Regions from separate parts of the Homo sapiens genome. Here all the other regions are reported to be linked to region 1. The links are microRNA targets in miRTarBase. Many come from high-throughput screens and were not tested one by one. Region 1 holds a microRNA gene; each other region holds the end of a gene's coding sequence.

Region 1 (5,103 bases):
AAGGGACAAGGCCTAGGAGCTGGGATGGATGATCACAGATTATTAGGCGAGACAGATTGTGCAGAGCCCATGTGTCCTGCCTCGGAAATGTCCCCTCTCCTCCATCCCTCTGTCCTCGCTCCTAGGCCTTTGTCATGCTTTGCCTGGACTGGTGGTGGCCTGCACTGTCTCCCTGCCTCCTAGCTTGGTCAGCCCCTCGCCGCCCTCAGAGTGGTCTTTCCAACACCTCCAGGATGTTACTCCTGGCTTATGACCCACCCAGACCTCTCCACCACTGAGAGGCAAGTCCCAAGACCTGAGCCCCATACCCAGGGCCCTTCTGCCCACCTCTGTCCAGCTCGCCCACTGCTCTGCATTTCCCTGCCAAGCTGTCCTGCCCATAGTGTAGCCATTTGGCACTTAGCAGGACTCCCCGGCCATGGCAGGCATCCTCTCTGCCTCTGCCCACGTGTCCTCCTGCCTGGAATGCCTGCTGTCTCTTCCGTGCTCAGTGAACTCTTACCTCCTGGTCCAGCCCAGATGTCACCCCCTCCGTGAGACTTCCTGAGCCTTCTCCAGCCGAAAGGACTATTCCTGCCTCTGTTTCCCCAGAGCATGTTGTTCCTGCATCAGTTACAGCTCAGATTGCACTGGAGTGTATTGAGTTCCTAGGTACTGCCCCTTTACAAGCTTTTTGGACATAGTAAACATGTCTTGACATTCTCGGTCTTTTTCTGGGCTTTGCATGATACCTTTCAGGAGGCATAGCAAGCCCCTGATCAATGGTTTTCTCTGCACAGAGCTGGCATGACAGCTCCTCACCCTGCTAAATGCAAGTTGAGTGAGGAGTGGCTCTAGCAGGCAGAGTGTGCGGGGGACAGGAGTCGAGGGAGAAAGGGTTATTTCACCACCTCCAGGACCTGAGCCCTACGCTGCCAACTAACCTGGGTTCCTGAAGGGTAAATTGCAGGAGCCAGAACCCAGGCTGCTTTCTGGATCAGGCATTTGCCACTGCCTGCTCCTCGGTCCCCATGGTGAGCGCCCCCTCTGCTGCACAGAGCTGGTATGACAGCCCCTCAGCCTGCTAAATGCCTTCTTAGATTGGCTCAGCAGCCCTCTGGGGTGGGCGTCAGCTCTGCGTGTTCCTGGTGAGCCGCACGTTGCTGGGAAGACAGTCTAGGATCAGTTTAGGCTTTCTCTGTATTTGGCCTAAGACTCAGGAACTTCTAGGAAGCAAGGTACACATCTTAGCTCAGCTTCATGGGCTGTGTGTCTCTAATAGGTCGTGCACCTGCCAGTGACCTTGGGTGCCAAGAGGAGGCCACGTCAATCTGGAAAAGCCCCGTTCTTGGCTGTCCACAGTTCTTTTCCCTGCAGCTCACATTTGCTGTTATTAAGAATTGACGGTTTAAGGGAATCACAGTCACTCGCCTCTTGGTTTTTGGCCCAAACTAACCAGCAAGGCCGAACATCATTCCTGGGGAAGGAGCCATCCACCTCCCACACACCGAGTCTCTCTCCTGGTTTTCCAGTGACCAATCTCCAGCTCATGCTAATCTGCCCTTCTGTCTGGAAGGCTCTGATCCTGAATTTAGTCTGAGGCTTGACCATAGATCCTTTGCCATGCACCACCATTCAGAGTTGCTATGAAATGAAGACAGTGCATGGCAAGTACCTGGCCTGCTACAGAGGATCACTAAAATTCTTCTGATCCCCGTCCAGCCCAGAGGGCCGGCTACAGGAGGTGCTAGCTCAGGGGCTTGAGAATCCTTTCCCCCTCAGCCCCTGGGATGGGACCTGGTGAGCCCTCCAAATGTTTCCTGGTCCCTCCTGGGGCCCGGCTCAGTGCTCGCTTTGGGCACAGCGTCAGATGTGAGAAGAGGATGGACAGGAGGCTGTTGGCTGCTCCTGACCCCCGGCCCTCTGCCTTGCAGGGTAAGACCGTGATCCAAGCGGAGATTGACGCTGCAGCGGAACTCATCGACTTCTTCCGGTTCAATGCCAAGTATGCGGTGGAGCTGGAGGGGCAGCAGCCCATCAGCGTGCCCCCGAGCACCAACAGCACGGTGTACCGGGGTCTGGAGGTACCTGCAGGAGGCAGTGGGCGAGCAGGCGGGGCAGCCCAATGCCATGGGCCTGATCTCACCGCTGCCTCCTTCCCCAGGGCTTCGTGGCGGCCATCTCGCCCTTTAACTTCACTGCAATCGGCGGCAACCTGGCGGGGGCACCGGCCCTGATGGTGAGATGTGGGCACAGGTGGGACAGCGGCAGCTGGTTGTCCTCCTGGTCCCAACAGACAGACAGAGGCCACCCTGAGCCCCTTGGGTCTCAGCCTAGTCATGGGGAGAGGCACAGAAGGTGGAGGCAGCTTGGGGCTGTGGGTAGGCTTTGGGACCAGAGACCCAGTTTGAATCCCAGCGTCGTGCCTCTCTGCCTGGGAGACCCTGGCAATCCCTGAACTTCTCTGAGGCACAGTTTCCTCATCTGCAAAGTGGAAATAATAGGAAAGCCTCCATGACTGGGTTGTGAGGCTCAAATGAGACACATCCAGCAGCAGGCAGGGCTGGCCCGGAGCTGGCTGAGTGTTGGTGGCTCTGTTGATGATCATTACCGCTGACCTTCAGTGCTCACCACGTGCCTGCTGCTGTCAAGCACGGCATGGAGATGATCTCATTTCATCCTCTCAGCAGCTTCGAGAGGGAGTTGTGACTCTGCCTCTTTGCCAGATGACAAAACTGAGACACACAGCCGTGACTTACTTGGCAAGACTGAGTGACTAGTAAATAAATGATGGAGCAGAGAAAGATTTGGATGTAGTCTCTCTCGGGGTTGATGGTATTCAAGTCACTCCTCTGCCATTATCGGAGTGAGGTTGGCTATTACTGGATGAAGTCCCAGGCCTGTGGGGGAGGTGCAGCCCAGCTCCCAGACAGCCTGGGTGGGAGAGGTCCACATAGTTGTCGGGAACCCCGAGCCCCAGACAGGGGCACTGGATGCTGATGCCGGAGTGTGTACTAGGGACATGGATGGGGACGTCCTCATGCATCTGTGCACAGACAAACACGGTGCATGGCCAGGCGCCCACGTGCCTGGCTGCTGCACATGCCTGACCCAGGACATGTGCTGAGAGAGCCCGTGTGTACTTGCCCCGCCGCGCCCGGTGAGCACTCAGTGACTCTAGCAGTAAGAACAGACCTGCCTAGGTGATGGCAGGACCGGTTGGTGCAGGCTTCTGGGGAAAGGGAGCCTTGGCCAGAGCGTGGGGCAGATTGGGCTGTGCCGTGGCCTCCTTGGCAGGGACTTTTGGAGATAGGGCCAGACGCCTTGGAGGAGTGGGGTCGGGTAGGGGATGTCCTGGTTGGCACAGAGTCTGGTGGTTCCAGGTGAGGGACAACCATGCTGTAGGGTAGGGTGGGGTGGGGGTTGGGGGCTGGTGGCGCCATCCTCATGCATCACTGAAACACCTCCCGGGCAGGGCAACGTGGTCCTATGGAAGCCCAGTGACACTGCCATGCTGGCCAGCTATGCTGTCTACCGCATCCTTCGGGAGGCTGGCCTGCCCCCCAACATCATCCAGTTTGTGCCAGCTGATGGGCCCCTATTTGGGGACACTGTCACCAGCTCAGAGCACCTCTGTGGCATCAACTTCACAGGCAGTGTGCCGTAAGTCCCTGGGGATGGTGTAGGCTGTGGTGGCTAGGGGACGTTCACCTGCTCACCTGCTGTCTGCCTGGGGATGGGGCTGTGAACCCAGGGGTCATGCACGGACTCTACTCCCTTACTTGCTGTGTGGCTATGAGTGAGCCACTTCACCTCTCTGAGCTTCCATTTCTTCACCTGTACAGGGAGTGATTATCCTTAATTTGCAGAGTCATTGCAAGGATTAAACATGTTAATGAACAGGAAAGAGCTTCGCAGACTGGAAGTGCACCCTACAGCTGTGGGTAATATTGATTTCAGTGCTACCTCTGCTACTGGAAAGGGCACAGGGGAGCACAGAATGAACTGGAGGAGTCAGGAAGCCTTCCTGGAGGAGGTGACATCTAAGCAGAGGAGTTGGCCAGGCAGAGGGGAAGAGGCAGGAGAAGAATATATATGTTGGGAGAGGGAATAGCACATACAATGTTGCCAAGCCAAAAACTTGTGCTCTGGGGCATGGCAGGATCCTGTGTGGCTGGAGTGTGGAGTTTGGGGGCGACAGGGCAAGAGAGTGAGGGCAGGGCATGGTTTGAGTTGAGGTAGGGGAGGCAGGCCACTACCTGATCTCGACCATCCATGCACTCACTGGCTGAGCAGGAAATTTGGAGCTCACACTAAGGCTCAGTGGTGAGCACACACCAGGGACAAGGTCCCGGCTCTCAGGCTGGAGGTGGCGGCAGGGAGTGGTTCAGTGACCATAAGATACTTAGGAGTCTGCAAAGGTGTCTGGCCTTTATCCTGAAGGTGATGGGAGCCATGGAAGGCTTCAAGCAGGGAGAGTGGCTGAGTCAGAGTTCTGTGTCAGGCAGAGATTGCAAATAATGGCCCCCAAATTGGATCTGGCAAGAGGCTCTACTTTCTTTGACTCCTAACAGTGATGGCCCAACTTTGTATAATTGGGACAATTTCATAGATAAATCCAAATATTGGCCTGTCTTGGTCCCCTGGACCTGGATGCTCTGATCTTGCATTTCCTGGTGGTACCACTGGCTGGAAGTGGGTGGGTGCCCTCTGGCTCCCTGCATACCTGATCCACGCTGTTTCCTTTCCCTGCTGGCTCCTCTGGGCCCCTGTGTTGGCACCCTCATTCTCAGTGATCTCTCTGTGACCTGATGCAGGAGACTGGCCAGGGACTGTTGACCTCCAGGGAGGGGTGGTAGGGGCTTGAACCAGGGGAGAGATGGGGGATGTGGAGAAGGGGGCAGGTTCAGGTGAGAAGGATGCAGGGAGGCACAGTGGCCATTGCCTGTCCTGGAGTTGGGGTTGGGGTGCGTGTGGGGATGAGGGGGGTTGTCAGCGAGAATGTTCAAGATGGGCACCTGGGAGGGCGAGCGGGCTCGGGGGAAGATGAATCTCCTGTTGGTCACTTCGGGTGTTATCTGGGTGGAGATGCCTGGAGGCAGCCAGACGCCCGGGTCTGCAGCT
Region 2 (5,103 bases), not on the chromosome of region 1:
GTGTGCCAGCACGTGTGCTGTGATGCTGTCCTCTTCGCTCAGTTCTCAAAGACTCGGCCACATAAAGAGCAAAAAGGTCCAAGGCCAGGCTTCTCTCGGCTCTAAGCCCCTCTCCCTTCAAGCCTCTCCGAAGCCATATAAAAGATCACCTGGCCTGGGTCCTGTTTTCCCCAGGTCTTGAACAAATTAGATGCTTGGGAGTTATTTGTGGAAGGAAGAAAACAAAAATGAGTGAATTACCACATTTTCCATGTTTTATTCATTCATTCAGCAAAGAAACCAATATATACACTTTGCAAGAAAGCCGTTTCGAGGATCAGGGGTTGAATTAGATCCAAACTTTGATCTCCAGGAATTCATAGTACCATCTGAGATTAGACACGTACCCACAGTTCTGGAAAACACTGTCATTGTTTGTCTATCAAGTTCCTCAGGATGCCTGGCTTCAGGGAGGCAGGCATAGTTTGTCTGGGGTCCGGGTCACCAGAAGGGAGACATGTGGGAGGGCAAAACCTGGGGGCAAAGGGAGAAGCCAGCTGCTCCTCACAAAGCAGGGACCCTGTGCCCCGCTGTCTTCCTGGAACCAGGAAACAGAAAGCAGCTGTGAAGGTGGCAGGGCAGCAAGAGAGCAAGACGAGAACAACGGTACAGATCCACTCAAAGGGTTTCCTTGGAGATGTCTGAGTCTTGCTGTTTGTTGCCTGGGATGCTGGCAATGACCACTTCGTGGCTCAGGAAGCAGCATAGGAGGGAGGCAAGTGTAGCCCCAACTCCAGTCCCCTCGCCGGCTTCCCACGGCTGACCACAGCGCGGCCCCTGTCTTATCCTAATTAGCTGCACCTATGCCTCCGTCCAGGCTCACCGGCAAGCTCTTGAGCACAGAGGAGCTCTGTACCTGCAGCTCCCAACACAGTCCCTGCACATGGCAATGCTACCCAGTTCCCAGCCCCTGGGACCTGCCTACTCATGCCTCCACTAGCTGTGAGAAAGGGGAACTTGGTGGAGGTGGAGAAATCCAGAAAAAAAGAGAACAGCACAGAGCCTTGAAGGATGTGGCCATGGAGACAGGAAGGAGCATAGTGTGGGGGGATGAACACTTGCTCAAAACCTCACCTCCAGAATTTAACCCTCTCTTCTGGGATAGTCTCAGGCCAGACCCAGGAAGCAGCACAGTCTGTGGGCAGTCTTTGGAGAGTCTTGCAAAGCTTGGCCTGTGAGCTGAGATCTCCAACTCCCAGAGCCATTCCTTCTGGTTTTGTTCTGCAGAGAGCAGGAGGCTGGCACACACACACATGAAGATGGGTGTGCACACGTGGGGCTTCATGCAGACATACCCAGGAAGATCTTGCGGGTCCCTGGAGAGGGCCCCCTCATCCCTTTATGGCCTGTGCCTGGTGACCCAGAGCAGACAAGACAAGGAGAGTGTGCTACAAACATCCACAGGTGACTCTGTGACCACAAACCCAAGGCTGGACTGCAAAGTGCTTTCACAGGGCCCCATGAGGGCAGCTCCTCGTCATTTATATTTTGCTGAGGGTCTCCTTGAATGGCTGCTTGCATAAAAGTGTTTAGAAGACTGCCGTTGGAATCTGAATCTATCTGAAATGTAATTCCATTTTCTGGAAATGTACACGAGTGTGTGTGTGGGTATGCATGTGCCCATGAGAGAGAGTATGCATGTGTGTGCATACGAACACAAGTTGCTGTGCTGGAGAGGAAGCTGGGAAAGGAGAGGAGAGCATGCACTTTTAGTCATCCACATACATACATATGTGTGCACACACACACATCCACCCAGAGCCTGTCTCCCAAATCGATGGCTCAAAGTCACTTTCTTATCGTAGACCAGACCCCACTTAGACCAGCGGCTTCAACCTTGCCTGCACATTAAGATCACTTGAGGAGCTTGTAAAAATCCCAATGACCAGGCAACACCCTAGACCAATACATCAGAATTTCTGGAGATGAAATTGGGCATCAATACTTCATATCAATATTTAATATTTAATAATCTCCTTGGGTGATTCCAATTTCCTGCCAGCGCTGAGTGCTCCTCTGCATAGAAAGCCCTTTTCCTACTCCCCTGCTCAGAAAGCTTTTACTCACCATTTAAGACGCAAGTCCCATGGCTACTTTCCAGGGAAATCCTTCCTGAGAACCTCCCCAAGAGTTAGTTCTTCCTTTCCTGAAGCTCCCGACAACACCTTAGTCATCTGCTATAATCATAATTATTTGCTTGTCTACCTGTCTGTCCCACCCTCCGTACAGAACCCAGAGCTCCGTGATGCCATGCATGACACAAGATCCATCTCTTCATTCCCACTGCCTATCTTAGTGTCTGACAGGCAGCTGGTCATCAATGATGCTTCAGAATGAAAGGGAAACATGTAATGAAGTATGTATGCAGGAGGGGGATGGGAGGTGGAGGATGGGCTCTTTCTGGGTGGTAAGGCCATGGGTTTGCTCCCTTGGCAGCAGAATGGGGTACACTCCCTTTGGTAATAGAAATGGTCTTCTATGTCAACAGTTTGATGCTGGTCAGTCCACATGTCCTGCTGCCTTAGGAAGTGCCATCAGGGTTACTCAGAGGCTCCGAGGGACAACAGAGCAGTGCTGTTATCTGTGCCAGCTTCACAGGGTGGCTGAACCTTCCTAACAGACCCTCCTGGCCCCATTCCATGCCCACTCTGTCCAGTCTGCTTCCAGAGCACCTTTGCTCTGAGGAGTGCTCAGGGCCACCTGGGTCCCCTGTTTCTGTGCCAGCCTAGGGATCCAAGACAGCATGGACACTGTGGTCCTTGGTAAAGGGCCAGCCTGAGAAACGCTACTGCAAGGGGGGCTCCCTGCAGCCAGCCCCAGCCCAGCCCAGGAGTCTGAGCAGCAGAGACGAGAAAGTGACACTGGTGAAACCAAGGGACAAACTGTGTCCTGTATGGCTGCAGCCTCCGGTCCCCTCCTATCCCCCTTTCCTTGGCCAGCCCTGTCCCTTCTGCCTTGACAGTGCTCTCCTATTTTTTATCTTATCACCCCTTCCCCCAGTCCCAATGGGCCTTTATTGTCCCTACCTTAGGCCCGCTGAGGTGAAGCAATGTGACAAGGCCACACAAGAGACTTTGGGCTGGGACTGGTGATGGGGCTGGAAAAGGTTTGAGAGCACAGGATTTGAAGTGAGCCCATCCTGATTCGATGACTGGCTCTGTCACCGACTGACCCTGTCTACTTGAGGCCTCAGTTACCCCATCTGTGAAACGGGGTTAATAATAGGGGCCCCTATCTCATAAATCCATGGTACAGATTGAGTGCAGTGCGGACAGAGAGGGCTCCTCATGTGTTCCTGACCAGGCCTCCTGGTCACTAGTCCAGGCTGAGACTACTGTGGGAACCGCCCTCCACCCCCTTCCACACACAGACACACACACTCTCACTCGGACAGCGCCTGATCCTGAAGGGCTCTCAACCTGTAGGTAGAAACCAACCCCCTCCCTCACACTCCCCAGCTGATGACCGGCCAAAGTCCTGGTCACCCACAGAGTCCACTCAACACAAGTATTTTCTTGACATTTTGGGGCTTTTACTTCAATTTGAAGCAGATGGTTGAGCACAGACGTGAACAGCTTTGGCCATTTGAGCACAAGGAAGGGGCGGGCCTTGGCTTTGAACACGCAGGCCCCATCCTCCACATACTGGCCCAGTCCCCTGGTCCCTTCCTTCTCTGCCCCTGCACACCCTGTAACAGACCACCGCCCTCCAAGTGGGGCGCCATCTTGCCCAGTAGGACGGCTCCAGCCAACCCAGCCTCTACTCCTTCCTCAGGCCACGTGCAGGCTGAACAAGAGAAAAACTCTTTTTCTGTCCATGGCAGGGCCTGCCCATGGTGCTGGCTGCCTGGGACGGGGGCCCATGGGGGTGGGTCACAGTGAGGAGAGGCTGGCTGGGGAAGCAAAGACCCATAGGTAGCTGCCCTGGGGCAAGTCCCTGGTGTAGGGGAGGGAGTAATATTGCTTCTCTCCCTGCTTACTCCCTTCTGGTGATGCTTAGGGCCCAAGGAGCCTGGACCCAAGGGACACTGAGAACTGGGGCCAGTGGCCTGGGCAGCCAATGAAGGGGAGAGAGTGGGCAGGGATCTCAGGTCCCACTCCCAGCCCCGCCCAGGCACCCCAGCCTCCCTCTCACAGCCCCTAAGGCTTGTCTTGCACTCAGCCAGCACAAGGCCCAGTGGAGAGAGAGCACCAGGTCAGAGGGCCAAGATGACCCCCAGGGGTCATCAAATGCCCATCCATTCCATGAGTTCCTAGCAGAACCACTGACTCATCTTTGGCTTGAGATGGGGCTCAGGCAACAGGAGGAGCAAAAGTCACAGAGCAACGGTGTGGCTTTTCGCTGTGGGGTTTCACCACCCCATTTCCTTCGGTGTCTCTGTCCAATCTTTGGCAACGAATTTCTGCAGCTGGACAGTGGGCCTTGGGGTCTGAGTGAGTCGGGGGCTGAGCTCTCCCCTCCCCACCAGGCAGAGGGCAAAGTGCGAAGCAGCCTCGGATTGGCTGGGTGAGGGCGGAGGGGAGAGGGAGGCAGGCGTGCTCCGATCCGACCCTGAGAGGCTGTAGGCTGGGCATCTGGCGGCATCTTGGAGAAGACCACGAGGCTGGACTCAGCGAGCTCACCTTGTCCTCAGGCCTGACTGGAAGGAGGGCCCACAGTGGTGGCCTTGGTCTTGCCTGCAGCCAGTCACTCCTGAAAGACATGACCAGCCATTAAAAGCTGCCCCTGCTCCACCTGGTTCCTGTTTCTGGACAGCTGCAGAATGTCCCTTCACTGAGTCCTCCAGGCAGAGGGGCCCCCACCTTGAAGGGTTCGATAAGTGGAAGAGCCAGGATTCAAACCCCGGCCTGGCTGCCTCCAGAGCCCACACTGTCCCCCTGTTCCTTAGTGCTGCATTTCAGAGGCCCTGCGTTTTGGTTGGTTTGGGGAAAGAAGAGGACCACAGTGGGTAGTGGGAGCCAGGGCCGCTGGAAGCTCGGGGACACCTGGGGCTGACACCACAATCCCCAGGGCCACCCCTCTGAGGGATCTCAGAGGCCCGTCCCCACCCTGGGGTGGCAGGCT
Region 3 (5,103 bases), not on the chromosome of region 1:
TGGAGATGGAGTCTCACTCTGTCACCCAGGCTGGAGTGCAGTGGCGCCATCTCAGCTCACTGCAACCTCCGCCTCCCAGGTTCAAGCAATTCTCCTGCCTCAGCCTCCCAAGTAGCTGGGATTACAGGCATGTGCCAACACGTCCAGCTAATTTTTGTATTTTTAGTAGAGATGGGGTTTCACCATGTTGGCCAGGCTGGTCTTGAACTCCCGACCTCAAGTGATGAAGCACAAAAATACAGTTAGATAGAATGAATAAAATCTAGTATAGGATAACATAAGGTGATTAAAAATTTTTAAAAATAATTATATGTGATACTAAGTTTAGCATAAAAACAGATTTTAGACAGAATCAGTTTATATATCATGAAATCTTTGTACCTCGGCCTCCCAAAGTGCTGGGATTACAGGCATGAGCCACCGTGCCCAGCCTTACTGTTGCTTTTCACAAACTTTAGAACTGAAGAAAATTTTAGGCCAGCTGTGGTGGCTCACACCTGTAATCCCAGCACTTTAGGAGGCCAGTGTGGGTGGATTACTTGAGCCAGGAGTTTGAGACCATCTTGGGCAACATGTTGAAATCACATCTCCACAAAAATTAGCTGGGGGTGGTAGTGTGCATCTGTAGTCCCAGCCATTCGAGAGGCTGATATGGTAGGATCGCTTGAGCCCAGAGAGGTCAAGGCTGCAGTAAGCCATGATCGTGATACTGCACTCCAGCCTGAGTGACAGAGAGAGACCCTGTCTAAAAAAAAGAAAGAAAAAATTTTAGAAGCAAACATATTAATGCTGGAATCAATCTCTTGCCCCACAAGTATTTTTTATTTGTGGAGCAATCACCTTCAAACTCTTGTTCTTCAAGTCTGATCTGGATCTTTGGGGCTGAGCTCTGTTATGAAGTCATGTTCTAAGAAACAGTAATAATCTCACTTTCTTATTGACCAAAAAAGACATATATATTTGAGACTGGGCACAATGACTCAGGCCTGTAATTCCAGCCCTTTGGGAGGCTGAGGCGAGAAGATCATTTGAGCTCAGGAGTTTGAGACCAGCCTGGGCAACATAGTGAGACTTGGCCTCTCAAACAAACAAACAAAAAAAGACATAAATATTAAAAAAAAAAAAAAAAACAAAAAAAAAAAAACAGATTAGGAGAAGAATGAGTGATAAACAACATTACTTAGAAACAAATATATGGGGCCAGGCATGGTGGCTCACGCCTGTAATCCCTGCACTTTGGGATACAGAGGCAGATGGATTACCTCAAAAAAAAAAAGAAAGAAAGAAAAGAAAAGAAATATATCATAAGTACTTGTTAAAAGAATGAAAATAGGCTGGGCACAGTGGCTCATGCCTGTAATCCCAGCACTCTGGGAGGCCGAGGTGGATGAATCACCTGAGGTCAGGAGTTTGAAACCAGCCTGGCCAACATGGTGAAACCCTGTCTCTACCAAAAATACACAAATTAGCTGGGTGTGGAGGTGCACGCCTGTAATCCTAGCTACTCAGGAGGCTGAGGCAAGATAATCGCTTCAACCTGGGAGGCGAAGGTTTTGGTGAGCCGAGATAGGCCACTGCACTCCAGCCTGGGTGACACAGCAAGACTTCCGTCTCAAAAAAAAAAGAATGAAAATAAATGAGCTAGGTACCTACCATCACAAGAAGTTAGAAAAAGAATAGCAAACTGGGTGCAGTGACCGACACCTATAATCCCAGCAATTTGGGAAGCTGAGATGGGAGGATCTCTTGAGCCCAGGAGTCCGAGACCAGCCTGGGCAACATAGTGAGACCACATCTCAAAAACAAGAAAAATTTTTATTTTTTAATTTTTAGATGGGGGTTTCACTCTTGTTGCCCAGGCTGGAGTGCAATGGTGCGATCTCGGCTCCCTGCAACCTCTGTCTCCCGGGTTGAAGCAATTCTCCTGCATCAGCCTCCCAAGTAGCTGGGATTACAGGCATGTGCCACCATGACTGGCTAATTTTGTATTTTTAGTAGAGACACGGTTTCTCCATGTTGGTCAGGTTGGTCTCAAACTTTCGACCTCAGGTGATCTGCCCACTTCAGCCTCCCGAAGGGTTGGCATTACAGGCATGAGCCACCATGCCCAGCCAAGAAAAAAAAATTTTTTAGAGATAGGGTCTTGCTATGTTGTGTAGGCTGGATTTGAATTCTTGGCCTGAAGCACCCTGCTTGAACTCGGCCTAATCTCAGTTTTGAATAGGTAGGTGTCTCCAGAGGAAGGTTTCTTTGGTATATCTTCAAAGGTCTATTGGATAAATGCTAAAATATTCTTTATAAAGAAACACTACTCACAAAAGATTTAAAGTAATAAACTTATTTTAATAGTGCAAAATGTAATCTGCTTTCCAACCAATGAAAGAAAAACTTTCAAAAAATTTATGAAACTAGTCAATACCTTGAACAAAGAAAAACACAAATAACTAAGTAAATATTACAATTGTGTACTCCAAACCCAAAAAAGCAGAGACCGTCATTACAAGCCAAATCTTTTTTAGAGTTGGTTGTTGCAGGTTACTAAAATGCGTAAAACAAAATCTCTACTTTTCAGACTTACAGAAAAGAAATAACTCCAATAAGAAAGCTAACTTAAGTTTCATGGGAAACAGATCATATTGATGACTTTAAAATGTTTTTCAAGGAGTTTACGGAACAGAACATCTATATCTTGATTTTTATGGCAAATGAGGTTTGTCTTGACTTTTGAAGCTTATGTGTCTTTTGACGTATAGCTCAGAAGTAAAAACCAATCAAGAGGGACAATAACATTCAGGGGATCCACAGGACTTTAACCTGATCCAAAAATATAAAGCAAAATTTTGAGACAAATTAGCTTAAAAATGCAAATGTATTTTGGTTTATAATTAAATATAAAACAAAAATTATCACAATTAGGATTTGAATGAAGTTTGAGTAAATTTTTTTGTCTACTTCATACATAATATTGGTCATTTAATAATATGTATGACAAGGGTATGGCATCAGAAAACAATACTTACAGCAAGTCTATTATTACTGCTAGAAATTGATGAAACTAGTGTTTTGGATGTGACATTGTTTGACGTGTCACTATTTAATAAAAGAAAATAGAAAATTTTGCTGTAAAACATTCTTCAGAAAATTGGGAACTGCCTAGACAGATGAGTATCTATATACCTCAATGAATTTCTATGTACATCTCCTTACTACATCACAAACACAAAAACAACATTAATATATTTACATATATGTACTAGACAAAAATGAATTAACTTTCCCTAGAAAAACTATACTTATTAAGAAAACATTGCTGGGTGTGGTGGCTCACACCTGTAATCCCAGCACTTTGAAGCCGAGGCAGGCGGATCACGAGGTCAGGAGATCGAGACCATCCTGGCTAACATCGTGAAACCCCATTTCTACTAAAAAGACAAAAAATTAGCCCGGCATGGTGGTGGGCACCTGTAGTCCCAGCTACTCGGGAGGCTGAGGCAGGAGAATGGCGTGAACCCAGGAGGCGGAGCTTGCAGTGAGCTGAGATCATGCCACTGCACTCCAGCCTGGGCGACAGAGCAAGACTCCGTCTCAAAAAAAAAGAAAAAGAAAACATAATAGACACCATAGAATAAAAAGCAAGGCCTTCAAAAAAAGATGGCAACCATTTCAATAGCTGAGTGCTATTGCTTTCTCTCTTTTTGTTTTTTTGAGACAGGGTCTTGCTCTGTTGCCTAGGCTGGAGTGCAGTGGAATGGTCTCGGCTTACTGCAACCTCTGCCTCCTGGGCTCAAGTGATCCTCCTGCCTTAAGCTCCTAAGTAGCTGGGACCACAGGCGCAAGCCACCATGACTGGCTAACTTTCGTATTTTTTGTAGAGGTGGGGTTTTGCCATGTTGCCCAGGCTGGTCTTGAATTCCTGGACTCAGGCTATTCACCCATTTTGGCCTCCCAAACTGCTGGTATTACAGGTGTGAGCCACCGCACCCAGCCCTACTTTCTCTTAATAGCATTTTAGTAACGGAGAAAAAGGATAATAGTTTGTAGACAGATACATTTCTACTCCAGAAATATCTGCTAGGCAGAAGCCAGGCAACCTAAAAAATCATAGCTCTATCTAGTTATGGGAAAATGGCTAATGTTCTTGTCAGTGATAACACTTCTTATACTTAAGTTAATCCTTAGGGCTTGTACTAAAGCAGAAAGCACTAGTTTAGTTAGGAGACATTTTTCCTAAGTGTCCTATTACTTAAACCTTTGGTACAAAGATGAGTAAGTTGATAGTAGGCTATGAGGCCTACCATCCAGACTTCATCACCATCATTCTGCAGAGATATAAAAAACATACAGATTAACTATAACATCATCAGAAGGAATTTTACTCAGCTTGTAATGACGTAAAAACAAAGGCTGAACAGCAATGGGACCCTGAAATAATATCAAGTACATTCTGCTTGGTTGTTCCAATGGTGGTCCAAGGGTCTAGTGGTAGAAATGGCAGTCCTGAAACAGATCTTGGTAAATTTGCTTGACTACATTCTTCAGGTAGTTGTTCTCCAGTGGCACTTTAGATAGAATGGTAGCAATATCATCTTGGCTGGAAAGAACAAAGGTTAATCAATTTTCTTTTTTGCGACGGAGTCTCGCTCTGTCGCCCAGGCTGGAGTGCAGTGGCGCAATCCGCTCACTGCAAGCTCCACCTCCCGGGTTCATGCCATTCTCCTGCCTCAGCCTCCCGAGTAGCTGGGACTACAGGCGCCTGCCACCACGCCCGGCTAATTTTTGTATTTTTAGTAGAGATGGGGTTTCACTGTGTTACTCAGGATGGTCTCGATCTCCTGGCCTTGTGATCCACCCACCTCGGCCTCCCAAAGTGCTGGGATTACAGGCGTGAGCCACCGCGCCCAGCCAGGTTAATCAATTTTTTAAAAAATCTTACACTTGTCTCTAATTCAGTGGAATTTATGTTCTTGGTCTCTCAGTTTCCTAGGAAGCACAAATGAGCATTTCTGGAAATAACCAGATATCCAGTTTGAAATGGGATTCCAAAACAGGGCCTAAGAACCAATTCTATATGTAATTGTGAAGTATCTTAACCTAGCTACTTTT
Region 4 (5,103 bases), not on the chromosome of region 1:
TAGAATACCAGAAATGCCGTTTACCCGGAGAATTTTTTTCTCCCCATTTGTTTTGTTTTTACTCAATGACACCATTTTTAGTTTTATTTCCTGATAGCAAAAGGAAAAAAAACACCCATCCCTCAAAAAGGCCAAGGTCCCGTCCCCCTGTTGTCGGTGATTTGTTTGTCTTTCTGATAGGTTGAAAATTGTGTAATAAACTTGATGACGCTGTCAATCTTTTATACTGCATTGTATTTTTTTCCTTTTGTAACAAAATATTTTTAAATAATAAATGGGGTGTGAGCTGTTTTATGGATTCTGCATTGAATAGATTTGTTGAGGTGTCTGGGGCATGGGCATGGGCTGATGTAGACACTCGAATGATGGTGAAATGCCAAGTTCTTAGCTAGGATTGCATGTCAGGCAGTGATACATGGCTTTAGTTGACTGTGGAAAGCCTCCTAAGAGACCTCTAATGCAAACCTTTGGAGGCATCCCTTAAGGTTTAGCTTTTTTCCTTGGCCATCTAAACAGCTGGTTAAAGAAAACTTCTAAGTTATCCTTTACCCTTCAAGATTCCTAAGACTTATTTTCAGAGCAAATGTTCTACCTTGTGCAGTTAAATTCCAGTATCAAGTTCAGGAAGGGAAGAATCCTTTGATAGGAGTTAGAAGATCTGACTGGTAGTGCCTAGTTTACCACCTGTTTATCTAAATATGGACAAGCAGTGTAACCCTGGTCTTTTTCACCTACAAAATGAAAATAATAGCTGTTGTGCCTTCTACACAGGGATGTTTTAAGAGTCAGAGATAACAAATGTGAATGTTTTGTAAACTGCCTAAATATGAGGAAGTACATAGTGTGGGTGATCTTGGGGCTCCAGAAAAGCTTTTGGCTTTAAAAAGCCAGGTGAAGGAGGGTTCAATGATTTAAAAAAAAAGTGAACCACAGACCAGATGATAATGTGTATGGTACCAGGAATGGCAAGATCACTGTAAAAACAAGCTTTAGGAGAAGAGATTCCGTAGAGGGTCTATCAAGATGTGAAACTTAAGGAAAAAAAATAGTTGGAATACCTTAGAATGTAAAACTATTACTTTCAAATTGGGTTCCATGGTAACCCACATCTTAGTTGTACGTCATGCTTGCTAAGACACCTGTTCCTGTGCTGTAGCAATCTCTACATAAGGTCTAGGTGTCTGGTTTTTATGCCCCAGATGACTTGTAAACTAAATTGTGAGGACTAGTAGCTTAGAGGCAAAATTCAGCTTCATCTAGGAGGTACCATGGTGGTGTAGAAAAGGAAGGATTTTATGGTTACTCTAGGTTCAAATCCCAGTTCCATTTCTAAGCTGAATGCCCTTGGACACATGACTTAACATCTGATTAATTTCCTTCTGCCTCATAGGATCATTATATGAATGAAATACACTTTGCCAGGCACTGGATGATTAGTAGTCTCCACAAGCTGCTGCCATGGTATGGAGCTAGAATCAATCTGCCCTAAATGCTTCCTAAACTGGGCGAGACCACTGCAGTCACTTGCTGGTTCTAGCCATGAGTGTGAGTAGCTGAGCAGGCCTCTGCCAAGCTTATGACCAGGGCCTGTTGCTTTGCTCAGTTCTCTCCACTGTCCCAGAATTTTGGTACCTCCAGCTCTGTGTGGACTGTAAAGCAGCTTCCCTTGACTCTAGTGAGCACAGCCTCTGGCCACGATAAATCTGAAAGACTAGCTACACTGATTTCTGTGATCCCAAAATGTTGGGATCACAAGTGTAAGCCACTGTGCCAGGCCTCCACTGCCTCAGTTTCTGTTGTATGTCCTAATTATGTGACTAACTGCATCTACACAGGTGGTTCCAACAAGCATCAGGAAAAATGAACATTTATCACGCAACCCACAGGAAGCACAATGCACTAAACTTCCACATAACCACCCAGTAAATGAGAGGACTTCCTATTCCTAATCACAGCCTCATTTTCAACCATCATCCTCATTCTCAAGTATGAGGAAATGGAATTTCCTTGATCCAGACAGACTCCTAAGGCAAGATTTCTAGTTCCACCTGTTAATAACCAGATGTGTGGTGCTGGTTATGTCACTTCTCATCTCTAAGCCTGCAAAGTCGGGGGTAAGACTTGGTTCATCTCTAAAATAGGTCTTTAAATTCTAATGGATTTTATAAGGCACCCTTCAACTTCCAATTGAGCCTTCCAATCATTTATATTGCTGTGGCAGTGAGCTTAACCAGTGAACCTCTAAATAGGCCATACAGAATGGGCTCTCTTCCAGTTTGATACCAGCGATTTCTTCAACACAGGGAGAAAGTAGCAGAAAATTGGTATTAGTGGGATTTGTAATTATCAGGGCAGTTCCTATTGAAGGTTTTGTTACTGTGTCATGGCTGATTAGACCTGTCTACTCTGGTTTTTGGATAGTCCCCAAGGGCAACTGGGAGGCAAGGGCACAGAAGGGGTAGGAAACAAGAAAAAACATCAGTGCTTTGGACAGCAGAGCCCCTCAGGATAAGAATGAGCTTGATCATAGAAAGTAAGAGTTAAAGCCAGCATAGAATGCTTAAAGTTACATTTTACTTCGAGTAAGAGCAGATAATCTAGGATTCATCTGAAAACAGAAGAGCCTCAAGGTTTTCTGAAGTGGATTCCGTCATGGCTCCTCGTGGCTTCTTGGAATTAAAAAACATGGCCACTACCAAGGAAATGAGGAATAATTTTAAAGATGCTTACTTGGAGAAAGAAAGTATACATTGATCTAGAGTGACAGTTCTCCAGCTTAAAAAAAAAAAAAAGTGTTCCTTTTATGTTGACTCAAAATTTTATTTTTGAGACAGGGTCTCACTCCTGCACAGGCTGGAGTACAGTGGTACAAACATAGCTCACTACAGTCTTGACCTCCTGGGCTCAAGCTATCCTCCTGCCACAGCCTCCTGAATAGCTGGGACTACAGGTGCGCATCACCACACCTGGCTTGTTTTTAAATTTTTTGTAGAGACAAGGTTCTCACCATATTACCCAGGCTGGTCACAAATTCCTGGAATCATGCAATCCTCCTGCTTCAGCCTCCCAAAATGTTGGGATCACAAGTGTAAGCCACTGTGCCAGGCCTCAAAATACTAAAATAAATGACCAAAAAAAAAAAAAAAAAAACATCAGCTGGTTGCAGTGGCTCACACCTATAATCCGAGCACATTAGGAGGTAGAGGCGGGAGGATCGCTTGAGCCCAGGAGTTACAGACCAGCCTGAGCAACAAAGACCCCATCTCTACAATAAATACAAAAATTAGTGGGCTGGGCACGGTGGCTCATGCCTGTAATCCCAGCACTTTGGTAGGCCAGCAGGCAGACCACGAGGTCAGGAGTTTGAGACCAGCCTGGCCAGCATGGTGAAACCCCGTCTCTACTAAAAATACAAAAAAAAATTAGCCCGGCATGGTGGTGCACACCTGTATTCCCAGCTACTCGGGAGGCTGAGGCAGAAGAATCACTTGAACCCAGGAGGCGGAGGTTGCAGTGAGCCGAGATCATGCCACTGTACTCCAGTCTAGGTGACAGAGCGAGACTCCGTCTCAAAAAAAAAAAAAAAAAGCCAGGCATGGTGGTGTGTGCCTGTAGTCCCAGCTACTTGAGAGGCTGATGTGGGAGGATCACGTGAGCTAGGGAGGCAGAGGTTGCAGTGAGCCAAGATCATGCCACTGCACTGCAGCCTGGATGACAGACTGAGACACTGTCTCCAAAATTAAAAAAAAAAAAAAAGTTAGTTTAGAATATGCTTCTTCCAGTTTCACATGGCCCACTGGAAAAAAGCTAACAATTATCTGTAAGAGGAGTGAGACAAGATGCTGACTTTGGGGCAGAGTGAAGCAAATAAGCAGTCTTTTGCATGACGAGAGACTTGAAGATACAGAGGATGGCAGTGCATTTAGGGTTTAATTTAGGCTGCAGCTTGGGGAAGAAAATCAGTGGTCATCACTGCCTTTTGTCCACACTGTATCACTAAGCAAAGCTCCTGAGAACAAACTGCTGGGATAGTCATGACCCTCTCTTGGAGTGGATGAATTCTAGGGACAGGTGCCATAAGGAAAGGCTGCAACCCCCACAACAGAAAATACATATTTATTATAAAATAAAGTTAGTTTCATGAAGAGAGTAGAAAAATAACACTATGAGCTACTAAAAAAGTTGTGGAACTCAGTCTCCGAGGATTGGGGTGAGAGGCTTTCACATCACTCTGGAAACCCACCAACATGAGGCTCTCCGTGCTCATGTGGGACAGGTATAGCACAGCTCGTACAGGGAGCATGTGGCTCAGGTCCTGCTTGAAGCCCAAGGAGCCTAGATGGTCCACACGAGATGCTCTGGCCACGGTGATCAAGGAGGAGAACTTGAGGTCAGCAGGGGACTGGTTCTGAGAAGGGGCAGGATGGGAATAACCTTGCCCCTCCCTATACTGGAGTGTAGAAGAGTCTCTTGGGCTGATGGTCCTGGTTTAGAAGATGGTACCCACTGGCCTTATGCTGAGTTGCTTGCCCAAATGTCTGTGCTGAAGAAAAGCCACACAGCCTTTCTCAGGACAACTTGCCCCACCAATTCTCACTGGTGTGGCTAAAGTACCAGAAGCAATATGTGTGGTGTCAGCCTGATGGGCTGCTGGCTGAAATTCTGTACTTCAAATCCTGTCCATACGATGGCAGAAAGAAAGAAAATGTTAAAAGACCAGTGAATGAGAGCAGCTGGCCTCGACTGTTCTATATTCCAAGCCTCCTGGCCCCAAAGGATAGGGAGAGTATCTTCCCTGAGTGGGAAACGATCTACCTACCCTAAACAGGAAAGGCAATCCCATAGCCACCCCTTCCTCCCTCTAGAAAAAAGTCTTCTAGACCCCTTAGGCTTCAGAAGAATACTGAATCCCTCCCTGGGATGGGAACCCAACCCTCTAGTGATGAGAAATGGTCCCTCAGCAGCAGTACCTGGAGAAAGCAGCCAAGGTGAGCACCTCAAGTAAAAGCTCTGAGCCACAGAAGAAGAGCAAGATGCCATTCATGATGGCTTCCAGGCGGAGTACGTAGGTCTGCAGCAGCAGGTAATAGGAGGCCATCATGG
Region 5 (5,103 bases), not on the chromosome of region 1:
AAAATACAAAAATAGCTGGGCGTGGTGGCACGCGCCTGTAGTCTCAGCTACTCAGGAGGCTGAGGCAGGAGAATCGCTTGAACCCAGGAGGCTGAGGTTGCAGTAAGCCGAGATCACGCCACTGCACTCCAGCCTGGGGATAGAGCAAGACTCTGTCTCAAAAACATACAAAAAAAACAAAACAAAACAAAAAAAACAGTGATGTTGGTAGGATTCACCTCTAGGCAATCTGGAAGCCACACAGTAACAACTTCAAGTTGCCAGCTGGGTTTGGTCAAAGAAATGTGTAAAGCCAGGATCCACTATCCTTAGCTGATTCTGTTAGATCAAAATGCCTAATACAAACAATTTCCTCATGTCTAAAATACTGTTTCCGAAAGTTATTTCTTTTGTTTTACAAATAGAGAGCAGTAATCATTTTCCTATGAATACTAGAATGATTATATAATCCTCATTCAAACCTCACACCAAGTGTTTTCAACAGCCAGAACAGAGCAATTTTTAAACTACGAAAAATGAAGTGCAAACCTTACAATTTCATAGCAATGTTCCCCACGTTTCACTCATGAACAGCTATCCAATTGCATGCACCTTCCTGCAGAACTTCTTCCAAGTCCAGTCCTTCCACTGGAGGGGCTTTCTTCCTATTTCTCCAATAGGTCTAAAATGTCAGGTTACAGTCAGATTTGGCAATGTGTATTACTTCAAATGATTGAGCTGGAGGAAACTACATTCCTTTGGAATGATGACAGAATCTATCAGAAACTTCACACATCCACTCAGCTCTCCTGGATCCCTGTCCACACCATGAAGCCTGAAGTTGTTATGATGGCCTTTATGAACCTGAAAGAAGCCGCTGGCTTCCACCACACCACAGTGTCACCCAAGAAATCCAATCCTTGTAAGAAAGGATAGGGCTTATCTTCTCATGACTTAGAATTTTTCAGAAATGAGAATATTCACAAAAGAGGGAAAGGCAATTCCCTTACCTATGCGCTAAGGAAGCCAAAGTCAGTGTGTGCAAGAGCTAGCTCTCAAAGGCAATGAAAGGAGAGTAAAGAATAGTTTTAGTTATCCCCTATCCACTTCTCATTCTGACTCCCCACTTTGCTTTCTTTTGCAAAAAGGATGAGCTAGTTTTCCATTTTTATAAAAACTGGCGATAGTATGAATAAACCCAGCATCTATAAAGTAGTTGAATAAAATCTCAGGCCAAATAAAGGCCTCCATAAGGAAGAACTGACATTAGGACTCCAATTACTGCCTGAAGTTCTGCTGTCAAAATCCAGCTGCATGATGATGCCACTGTACTCCAGCCTGTATGACAGAGCAAGACTGCCTAGGAAAAAAAAAAAATTCCAGCGGCACCAAGTACCACCTTGATGACTTCTGTATTCACCACTAAAAACTGAAATAGAACATACTATATACAGCTTCAAGTTTGTCACTTTTTAATAAAACTTTTCCCACAAATGATTATAATTACTTGCCCTTTGAAGCTATTGGATAGATCTGAAAGTGAGGTAGGGTGGGGATGGTCATTAGATCAGTAATAGTTATCTGTTCAGGCTCGATAAAAAGTAAAAACTCGGCCAGGCGTGGTGGCTCACGCCTGTAATCCCAGCACTTTGGGAGGCCAAGGCAGGTGGATGACCTGAGGTCAGGAGTTCAAGACCAGCCTGGCCAACATGGTGGAACCCTGTCTCTACTAAAAATATAAAAATTAGTTGGGTGTCATGGCAGATGCTTGTAATCCCAGCTACTTAGGAGGCTGAGGCAGGAGAATCACTTGAACCCAGGAGGCGGAGGTTGCAGTGAGCCAAGATCGTGCCATTGCACTCCAGCCTGCGCAGTAAGAGCGAAACTCTGTCTCAAAAAAAAAAAAATAATAATAAAGTAAAAAGTCATTTACCATCATCATTGCCCAAAGTCTCCTGGGGCTTCTGCAAAATAGATTCAGTTGTGATTCCGGTTCTATTTCTAGAGTACTAAGCAGAGCTGATGCACAGAACTCAATGTGAGATAGATTAAACCCAGATTTTGTGGGATGGGGGAAGATATTGTTCTTTTGCTTAAACCCCACAGAGTTTCAACATGGATATTAATGATATCTGTCCTTGAAATTCACCATTAATTTCTATCAACTTCACAGCACTCAGAGGTCCAGAGTCTGGCTCTATGCTAATGCAGATTCTGCAAGAGATAGGTCCCCACTCTAGAGTTCACATCATTCTCAGCTCTGCCAGCAACCCTTTTTCTCACCTGTAAAATGGATATGCTTTATACTGGAGTCAGCAAGAAGGAATAACTCATGTTCCCAGACATAAGCTGTCACTGAGGTTCCAATTCTTATGTTCATCTTCAAACTACCTTCCTATTGGTCTGTGAATGAAATACATCCCTCCCCACCACCCTTGTAATACAAGGGGAGACAGCTGAAGAGCGGCTGAGATTTTTCTACTGCTTGCTCCCTCTACTCTCTCCCTGATTGTGACCACTAACATTTCCACTGCTGAATCACAAAATTACCTAACTTTAGAGAGGGAGGAGGACACAATCTGGCAACCCAGGGACATGTTTTGTTTGGCTCACCTTATTTCAAATTTTCTTTAATCAGTTGTAACGTTTTAAAAATCCAGGATTTCAAATAAAAATCTGGATTTCTAGCTCCTCCTGAAACAATGTGAAGACCTGCCAACCCTGGGCTTGCTTCTCCTAATGACAAAACAGAGCTGAATAACTGCCCTATTAGATCAACTTTCCAGGGGACAGCACAATCCTCCCCAGAATGTTTTACTCATTTATGTTACCTGCACGGCTCCCTTAGGCATTTGGGTTTGTGAGCCCTCATCTAGGACAATTCCCTCACTTAAAAGATGAAGAAAATGATGGTCTTAGAAGAGAAAGTTAACTTGCCTGAGGCTGCAGATTAAGTTAGAGGCAAAGGAGGAAGTTAGGTTGGGTTCAGGTATCCTTCTAGTATAGCATACTGTGTCCCTATTTAAACCATGGCTTCTATCAGCATTTCTTCAACCAATTACTTAAACTGTCTAAGTGGAATCAGCTATATTTTCTACATTTCCCTTTTATTCATCCTTTTCATATAATTGATGTTCTTATAGAAAACTCTGTAACAGTCATTTCATTTAAATATTATCCGACCTGAAAGAAACCATGAATCAGGGATCAGACAAAAATACATGATCAACTTTTACACATTTCAGTAGGTGAAGGACCAGAAAGAATCTTAGAAATCACTGAGCTTCATACCTGGCTGTACAGACAAGGAAGCTGGGACCCAGAGAGGGTGCAGAGTTCCAGGGTAAGAGGCCCGGTCTCTAACCTTCCAGCTCACTGCTCTTTTCTGCTATACCAGGGCACCGCTGTGCAGTCATCCAGGCTGCCGGGGACTAGCTTCCCCGACATGGCAACAAAAACTACAGAACTCGCTCACATCTTAAACATGGCCAACCTTGACTCTGCCAAGATATAAGGTTTAGAATGAGTTGCTAACATTCAATTTACAGAATTGGATTTGAACTGGAAGACAGACTTTCCTTAGCACTGGTATTTGGTGGAAGTTTATAAACTGGTATTTGGTGGAAGTTTTAACACTGGCTCTTATAAGAGCTAAACCCCGTGTGAGGAAAGTTGCTGTAACAACATCATAGCACCTTTGCTTCAACTTCAAAAGAAAAAAAGGCTATGGTAAAAAGCTTTAATAACAGACAATGTGATTTCATAGGCAACCAATTAGCAGATTAATGGATCATTTAACTTTCTTTACTTAAAACCAATACTCCACTCAAGAAAGATGAACCCAAAATGCATCCTCTAACACTGACCAACATAACTAAGTACAAATGAAGTCAATGGTGTACCCCATTAGCATGCTGCGTTGTATGTCAATAAAACAAGCCCTCCCCCACCCCGAGCCCTGGCCCCTGGCAAAACATAGATAAATGATTGTGCACTGCGTGATGATACCATTAGGTGAGAACTTTGGTTCATGCAGTCGGCTGCCGCAGAGGTTGCACCCAAAACCCGCAGCCCCGGCACCCAAAGTCAGTCAGCGGTGGTGGCTCATGGTGTCAGCCGTGCTCCTTCCACAACACCAGGTGAATACTGTGGTCAGGCATGCTGGTGGCAAAGACCAAGCCCGTGTCATTGTGCCCATCCAGTCCATTCAGCCAGGATGCTTCGCCTGCCAGGAAGCTTGAGCCTCTCTTTGATTTCCTGTACTCTGGCAGAGGCCAGCGACTAATCAGGCTCTCTGTCCGCAAGTCCATGATGTACAGGTAGCGGTTGTCAAACAGCAGGGCAAAGATATCTCCAAAGCCAAGCAAGGCCAAGTTTGCTATCTCAGGAGTCTTGATGACCCTACAAGGATGAGAGTTAGGGACTGTGAAAGAAGGCAACCTTGCTTCTGTTTATGCTACTGTAATCTTTTCTGGAGATATTTAAAACCAATATTAAATTCAAGCAAATTTAGAGTTAAATGTTTTTGATAAAAAGTAAAATATAAGGAGAAAAGCTCAGCCCACTTATAAAAAAGCCGGGAGCGGGAGAGGTGCGTTCAGTCATTATATAATATTGGCATGGAAGGGAAAGGTGGTGTTTGATCAAAGTTTTTTTTTTTTTTTTTGAGACAGGGTCTCACTGTGTTGCCCACACTGGAGTACAGGGGCGTGATCTCGGCTCACTGCATCCTCCACCTCCCAGGTTCAAGTGATTCTCCTGCTTCAGCCTCACAAGTAGCTGGGACTACAGACGGCTGCCACTGCACCTGGCTAATTTTTGTATTTTTAGTAGAGACGAGGTTTCACCATGTTGGCCAGGCTGGTCTCGAACTACTGACCTCAGATGATCTGCCCACCTCGGCCTCCCAAAGTGCTGGGATTACAGGCGTGAGCCACCGCACCCGGCCTGATGAAAGTTTATAAAAGTACAAAACATCTATCCAGGCTAGAAAGGATCTTACAGATAACATTTAACTAAACAATCTATTTTTAAGCTGTGAAAACCAAAGCTCAGGCAGAGTAAATGCTTTGGCTAAGGATTCACAATTTGTCAGTTACCAGTGAGAACTAGAAGGCAAGAGTT

The links. Region 1 holds the annotated microRNA hsa-miR-4695-5p (CAGGAGGCAGUGGGCGAGCAGG, at 2,071-2,092, shown strand). A microRNA usually pairs through its seed, bases 2 to 8, with sites in the 3' UTR of a target mRNA and lowers its output. Matches are read on the target gene's strand: a 7mer-m8 pairs with bases 2 to 8, a 7mer-A1 pairs with bases 2 to 7 and ends in A, and an 8mer does both.
Region 2: miRTarBase lists ATOH8 as a target of hsa-miR-4695-5p. Seed matches in the 3' UTR shown: 7mer-m8 at 1,272-1,278 and 7mer-A1 at 745-751.
Region 3: the mRNA of KNL1 is a reported target of hsa-miR-4695-5p. Seed matches in the 3' UTR shown: 7mer-m8 at 3,513-3,519.
Region 4: the mRNA of TMEM216 is a reported target of hsa-miR-4695-5p. The part of its 3' UTR that is shown has no 7-base or 8-base seed match.
Region 5: the mRNA of FBXW2 is a reported target of hsa-miR-4695-5p. Seed matches in the 3' UTR shown: 7mer-m8 at 1,798-1,804, 8mer at 1,765-1,772, 7mer-m8 at 86-92 and 7mer-m8 at 54-60.

Annotation. Positions count from the first base shown.
Region 1 is chr1:18,880,239-18,885,341 of GRCh38, reverse strand. MIR4695 (microRNA 4695) reads left to right here and starts at 2,067; the gene lies at 2,067-2,140. ALDH4A1 (aldehyde dehydrogenase 4 family member A1) reads left to right here. Exons shown (of 15, transcript NM_003748.4): 6 at 1,914-2,063; 7 at 2,144-2,218; 8 at 3,455-3,642. RefSeq lists a silencer at 982-1,213.
Region 2 is chr2:85,786,513-85,791,615 of GRCh38, reverse strand. It overlaps ATOH8 (atonal bHLH transcription factor 8), which reads right to left. Exons shown (of 3, transcript NM_032827.7): 3 at 233-4,731. The coding sequence ends at 4,726. Among named protein-coding and RNA genes, the nearest start is that of MIR6071, 5.4 kb to the right of the region's middle.
Region 3 is chr15:40,661,562-40,666,664 of GRCh38, reverse strand. KNL1 (kinetochore scaffold 1) reads right to left here. Exons shown (of 26, transcript NM_144508.5): 26 at 2,323-4,591. The coding sequence ends at 4,477. Among named protein-coding and RNA genes, the nearest start is that of RAD51-AS1, 31 kb to the left of the region's middle.
Region 4 is chr11:61,397,843-61,402,945 of GRCh38, reverse strand. It overlaps TMEM216 (transmembrane protein 216), which reads right to left. Exons shown (of 5, transcript NM_001173990.3): 4 at 4,971-5,103; 5 at 4,100-4,676. The coding sequence ends at 4,670. It overlaps CPSF7 (cleavage and polyadenylation specific factor 7), which reads left to right. Exons shown (of 10, transcript NM_001142565.3): 10 at 1-217. Among named protein-coding and RNA genes, the nearest start is that of TMEM216, 7.8 kb to the right of the region's middle.
Region 5 is chr9:120,760,468-120,765,570 of GRCh38, forward strand. FBXW2 (F-box and WD repeat domain containing 2) reads right to left here. Exons shown (of 8, transcript NM_012164.4): 8 at 1-4,380. The coding sequence ends at 4,092. Among named protein-coding and RNA genes, the nearest start is that of FBXW2, 30 kb to the right of the region's middle.